Homo sapiens: one gene and its partner. The protein of the gene in region 1 interacts with the protein of each later gene in a biochemical or structural test. Each region holds a gene or a part of one and is shown on either strand. Other genes may lie near its edges.

Region 1 (3,315 bases):
GTCTTTTAGACACAACTGGCAGCCAGAGAGAAGGCCTGAGCAGGGGTCCCACCAATGCCCCGGCAGAGCCACTCCAGGCCGCGGAGCATCTGCCCCACCCACGAGGCTCCCAGTTCCTGAGCCCCTCTCTCTCCAGGCCACCTGCCCCCTCTGAGGGAAACCAACAGGCCACCCTCCTCCCCTCCCATCCCCGCGGGCCTCACAGATGGCTGCAGGTCCGCAGAGCCCTGTGCCTCCAGCAAGGCCAGTGAGGTGGTGATGCCCCACCCTGCCCGAGCCAGGGCCAGCCCTGCAGGAAACAAGGACAAGCCTCAGCCCACCCCGCAGAGCAAGGAGAAGACTCAGGCTGGGGAGGGGCCGGGGCACTCTGGTCTGAACGGGGAGTCGGGAGTCTGAAACCAGAACACCAAGGCAGAGAGAAAACAGGGGGGTGAGTGACCCGCCCCTGCAGCCTGGAGGTGGCCCCGAAACCTTGCACAGAGGGCAGCTCATGTTCTCATTGGCTCGAGGGCAAAACTGTGAGTTATCTTTGGAAAAAGGGGCTACCTTCCCCCTCACTCAGAGCACAGGGCAGCTTGCTTGCCCCACGAGTCCCCTCTCATCCCCGAGGCGGCTGAGGTCTTTGCTGATGACACACCAGCTTGCGCCCCCAGCTGTCCCCTCCTGATTAGGGGGAAGCTGTCACGGGCTGGCTGGGCACCAGTATTCAGAGCAGATGAAGATGTCACTCCAGACAGGAGGGCCACACAGGAATTCTGAAAACCAGCATCGATAAACAGCAACGGAAACAAAAGCCCCGTTCCCAACTCCTGCAGCTCCAGGGCTGGGGCCCGAAGACCCTGTAGTCGCCCAAGCCCCGTGGGGTGTGGCAGGGTGTCCTGAGAGCCCGGTGGGGAGGCGCCTGGCTGGGCTCACGCTAGTTCTTGCCACGAAGGCTGCTGCCTCAGGAAAGCCACTGCCCTGGGCCACAGACAAGTAGTAACAGAAATAAGGAGGGTGACAACACATCTCTTAGGCAGAGCAGTGACAGGCTGTGCCCCAAAGTCCAAACAGGCCAGGCAGAGAAGGGCAGGGACAGGGCTCAGGCTGAGAAGAACAGCTGGCGTCCAGGCAGGGTGGCCAGAACGGGTGGGCACAAAGGATGGGCCCGCAGGCCTAAGTCATTTGGTGCGGCGCCTCCAGCATCTCCATAAGGAAGGTGTCAATGGGTGTGTCCCCGATGAGCTTGAAGAAGAAGAGATGTTCCAGGCATTTGAGCCCGATGGAGCGCAGAGCCGGCAGGCGGAGCAAGAGCTTAGCGAACCTGCAGGGAACAGGTCTGGTGAGGGCCGGGCAAGGGGCATGGGCAGTTCTGCCCTGGCACTGGAGGCCTCCCTGGGGATGGGGCTGTGTCTGATACCCCAACCCCTCTGAGGCTGGTCTGTAGCCCTGAATCTGCCTATGCCAAGCCTCCAGAAGGAAGGAGGGGAGGCTAGAAGGAAACAGAGGCAGTGGCAACCCAGAGCCAGGACAGAGTGAAGGGAGATCCCTGGGTCTGAGGACGGAGATGAAGGGCCAGGGGCCAGACAGCAGCTGGCTAGGGCAGACTGAATAGCTCTTTGTGAAGAAGTTAAAAATTGCAGGCAGTTGGGCATGATGGCTCACACTTGTAATCTCAGCACTTTGAGAGGCCGAGGTGGGAGGATGGCTTGAGGCCAGGAGTTCGAGACCAGCCTGGGCAACGCAGTGAGACCCTGTCTCTACAAAAGAAAAAGAGAAAAACAGTAGCAAGGCGTGGTGGTGCATGCCTGCAGGGAGGACCGCTTGAGCCCAGGAGGTTGAGGCTGCAATGAGCTACGATCGCAGCACTGCACTCCAGCCTGGGCGACACAGCCAGACTGTCTCTCAAAAAATGAAAAACTGTGGGCCATGACAGCCGGGAGCGGGTGTGAGTATCAGTAATGCATCTGGCTGCAGCAGCCATCACAGCAAGAGACTGCGGGGCTTGTAAGGGAAAGGGCTGCTGAGCACACTGGTGAGTCGCAGGGAACAGGCCCGGCACATGGTGGGCAACCAAGAAGTCAAAGAGCATCAGGCGGGGGAGGGGGAGTCAGGCTGCACCCCCACTGCAGGTGGAGCCAGGCCTGACTTGGGAGCTGTGTAACGGTGCAAGACCCTTTCCATAAAGCATCAGCACCCCATGAGTGCCTCCCACGGCACCTTGTGCAGGGCTGTGGGCCCCAGACCAGGGCCACCCCTTCCTCAGAAATAGCTCTGCTGGCATTGGGCACAGCATGGTCAGAGAAGGCTGGCCGGGGAGGGAGGGAGCACGGGTTGGTCCTCAGGGCCTGGCCCATCCCTGGGGAGTTTCCTGGGGCAGGGACCAGTGGGGGGGCGGGAGGGAGGGGGGAAGTCTGGGGCTCTGGGAAGAGGGATAGCAGGGCCAGGCATGAGGGCAGCAGCTGCCGCTGAGGACAGGGTGCTATGGGGACGGAACCAGGTGTCCCTTCCGGCTGGCCGTGTCTGCCCAGGGCCCCTGTGCACGGCCTGAGTCTCTCCACACGGCCCCTCCAGGGGCTGCAGGACCTCATTAATTATTAACGAAGTCTTTCTTTCAGGGAAAAGCTCTGTGGTTGGCTGCCTCACAGGCCTTGTTTTAAAGGCAAAAACAGCGCAGAGGCTGGAGTTGGGCCAGAGAACAAGCTGTTTTCTGCTGAGCTGGCGAGATGGGCCAGGGCAGAAAGCCAGGAAAAACAAGCTGCCTGCCACCCCCTCCTGTCCTCGTCCTCCGGGAAGTTTCACTTTAAACCAAGCCAGATGAGGGCTGGGCAGGCAGCGGGGACACGGTTAACTGTGTATGTGCTGGTGGCGGGAAGGCCTGGGTGTCCTATGAGGTCTGCTGGGCCCCACCTCCCCCGACCCCCTCCCCGCCCCACAGTCTGAGGATCAAGAGGCCAGGAGATGCCCCTTTAGAGAGAAGAGGCAGAATCTGGAGCGCTGACTTTGAATCCCAGGCAGGGATCCACAAACGTTTCTCTTCCTGGACACCTACTGTGCACCCAGCACTGTGGACTCAGAAATGAGGGAGCCCCAGCCCTTCCAGGGCCCACAGCCGGGCAGGGGGGAAACATGAGCGCTACGCTCAGGCCGTGACCGCCTATTCCGTACACACTTGTAGAGAGTGTTTAGTATGTGTGGGCATCTGGCCATCCATTCTACACATGCTTGTGAAGTACCTACTATGTGCTGGTGTCGCCTGGCCTCTGGTGGTTCTGCTTGGTAGGGGAGCGCAGTGGGGGGTGAAGCACAGCCTTCATCTATCTACTGAACAAAGAG
Region 2 (3,500 bases), on another chromosome or scaffold:
ATCAAGAAAGCATTATGATGCCCTTGGGGTGATATGCCCCAAGAATGGGAAAGGTGATCTAAAATAAAAATACTCTTAAGTGTTCAGATACCTGAAATGAAAGCTTCTTCCAAAATTGACTTTACCTTGCCTGCCTTTTCTCATTACATAAAACTACAAAAGGAGACACATCACAAACCATGTTTTCCAGTTACATGTTATCTATATATTTCTCTCTTGTCTGTCTGCATATGTTTCCTCATTTTTAAAAATTAAGGTATAATTTACATTCAGTAAAATTTACTCTTTTCAGTGTAGTTCTGCTAGCACTGACAAACACATACAGTTGCATGTGTGTACTCACCACAATTACTACGTAGAACAGTTCCATCACTCCAAAATATCTCCCACATCCCTTGACAGTCAACCCTTGATCTCAGGCAACTACTGGTCTGTTTTTCTGTCCCCATAGTTTAGCCTTTTCCAGAATGTCATATAAATGGAATCATAGCATAAGTAACCTTTTGAGTCTTTCACATAGCATAATGCATTTAAGATTCACTCATATTGCTGGATGCATAAGAAGTCTGTACTGCTAAATGGTATTCCACTGTACGGATACAACAGTTTAGCTAGTCACCAGTTGAAGAACATGTGGTTTGTTGCCAGTTTTTGGCAATTATGAATGAAACCATTAGAAACATTCCTATGCAGATTTTTGTGTGAGCTTGTTTTCATTTCATTAGGGTAAATATCTAGGAGTGAAAAACACTGGATAACATAATAAATGTATGTTTAACTTTGAGAAACTGACAACTTTTCAAAATAGCGGTACCATTTTGAATTCCCACACTGGGAATGATCAGTTTTTGTTTTTGTTTTGTTTTGAACCATTCTAATTGGTATATAATGATATGTCATTGTCGTTTTAATTTGCATTTCCCTATTAATGATGTTAAACATCTTTTCACATGCCATCTTGATATCATCTTTGGTAAAACGTCTTTTCAAATATTTTGCCCATTTAAAAAAATGGAGTTTTTTTCTTATTGCCTAAAAATTCTTTATATACTCTAGATACAAATCTTTAAACGGATATGTGATTTGCATTTAATTTCTCCTCGTCTGTAGCTTCTTATTCGTTTAAGTTCTTTTGTGGAGCAGAGGTTCTTACTTCTGATGAAGTCCAATTTACCAATTTTTTTTCTTTTATAGATCATGCTTTTGGTGTCACATCTAAGAAATTTCTGCCTAACCCAAAAGGGAAGGCAAAAATTAGCAGTGAACTCAAATTAAAACCATAATGAGATATCACTATACACCAATTAGGGCATAGAGATTTTCTGCACAGGCTTAATTTTTCTCCATGTTCTTCTCAACATCTTCTATAACAGCTAGAAGTCATCAAAGTAGCCTCTTACGCTGTTTTAGGTTTTCAACTATTGTTTATTAGTGTTTTTCATAATCTCATGCATAGGAACCCATGCTCAGATATAGAAAATGTTTTAATAATTTTCATCTGACAACATGGATGATAATATTCAGAGAAACAAAGAGAAAAATTAGACATGTATGTCAACATGGGGGTGGGGAAGGGTGAAACCGACAGGTGGCCACCACGCACTGAGCTCTGGGCCTGAGCAGCAGTTGGTAGTGCTTCGCATATTACTCAGCAGTGACTCACACTGCACGTGTGTGTCAGCCCTCAGCACATACTCTAGGAAGAAGGACCTTGGAAACGGGTCCCCTCGACAGCCTCCACCTTGGGGCCCGGTACCTCCCTGGAAAGTGCCATTTTATAACCAGACTTACTTTCTTTGGCCAATAAATTATTCCCTAAAGTAGCTAAAAGCCGGTAAGTCTTAAATGTGCAACTGACATAACACTGCAATAATGAACTGGGCCTCCAAGAGCTATGTTTAAAGTGTAGGTTGGTGTCTGGCTTGGGGTAAGGAAAGCCCTGTCACCACTGAGACCCCAGGGAGGAATGGCCCCTAGGCACCCAGTCCTTAGGATCCGTCAGGACTAACCCCAGCTAGCACCACAGAAAGGAAGGCTGATTCTCCAAAATGACCTAAGACACATAACAAAATCTTGTTCCTGCTGCTATTCTTGTGCCCACTGAGAGCCACTGACTGAAGAGTCACTCCTTCTCTGATGAGGAGGCAGGGAGCCTGGTTTCCTGGGAATCCATGGGCTGTTGGGATAAATTCACCTCCACCCCTCTTCTTCATTGTGCATCAATCCTGCCTACTGAGAGGGAACCTGTCACACTTCCCTGCTATGGAAAGGATCATCTCCACAGTGCCTTTTCTACCCCAAGAGTCTGTTTTTCTATTTAAAAGCCCTCTGAAATTTAGAGGAAAAATAATCTAGTTCTACTCTCATACTGGAAAATTGGGTCTTAATTACAGTATATAAGTGGGCATTATTATGTCTATTTTACTGATGAAGAAATAGGAGCTGAACAAATTCTCATTTCAACTAATATGGGGAACCTTGATTTTTCTCAAAGGATATAAAATTACTGAGTCGAATTAGTATTACTGTAAATTTACATTAAATACAGAGATGTTACCTTTTTCTTCAAAGCCTCAAAGAGACTCAGACTCAGCAAAAGGTTAAGTAACTGGCCCATGGGCACACAGCTAGCTTGTAATGCAGACAGGATTCAAACCTAGCGCTGCTTATGCTCTCTTCTACCCTACCACAATGAGCCCACATCAGAATGACAGTTCAAAGAAAGGCAGTGACACTGGCTGAATCAAATGGACTTGCTATCTGCTTTCCTTTGTTTTAATTTTCACAGGGATCTTTATTTTGGGGGAACATTCCAATTACATATGTTGCAAGGTAACATTTGTAATCTTTTTAATATTGGGAAGCATAGATGAGAAATGACTAAATTTGAGAAAGGGGAAGAGGGAGGAGTATTAGAAATATAGGCAAGTCTCATGCAAATTATAAAAAGTTAAATTATAAAAAGTATACTGTGGTATCCTGCATTGGATCATGGAACAGAAAGAGGACATTAATAAAAACACTGGTGAAATCCACATCAAATCTAAACTTTGATTAATAGTAATGTAAAAAAGAGAAAAGTTAATTAGAGTGTAGGGCTAATATTTCCAGAAAAAAAAGTCACAATGTAGATAAGTGTATACTGATGAAGCTTCAGCTTTCAAATGTAAAGTAACAGACACAGAAGTAAGGCAGGTGCATCTAAACCAGGAAGGAGAACATACTTGGCCCTTGCTTCTTCCCATTTTTGTTTTTTCTCATCAAAAGCTTTCTTCATAATTTGGTACCACTTTCTGAAATCAAACCATGGCTTATCTGAAAGAAATAAAATCCAAGATTATTAACCAAATAAACCACACTATAATAATATACATTGTTCATCTGAGTTTTCATTAATTGACTGCACTGGGCAGTTGGTGTGAGTGTGTGATCAAGATGTAGACATTAGAGAGACAACAGAACTGAATGCAGTAAAGTATAAAAACTCACTCCTCACTCTT

What was found.
Region 2: the proteins of RXRA (region 1) and TAF1B form a complex in vitro, tested with the Homo sapiens proteins (one study listed by BioGRID).

Annotation. Positions count from the first base shown.
Region 1 is NC_000009.12:134,434,455-134,437,769, reverse strand, and holds part of RXRA (retinoic acid receptor RXR-alpha), read right to left. Parts: intron 1,304-3,315; coding exon 1,156-1,303; 3' UTR 1-1,155. UniProt on the Homo sapiens protein: Receptor for retinoic acid that acts as a transcription factor.
Region 2 is NC_000002.12:9,912,974-9,916,473, reverse strand, and holds part of TAF1B (TATA box-binding protein-associated factor RNA polymerase I subunit B), read right to left. Parts: intron 3,316-3,500; coding exon 3,225-3,315; intron 1-3,224. UniProt on the Homo sapiens protein: Component of RNA polymerase I core factor complex that acts as a GTF2B/TFIIB-like factor and plays a key role in multiple steps during transcription initiation such as pre-initiation complex (PIC) assembly and postpolymerase recruitment events in polymerase I (Pol I) transcription.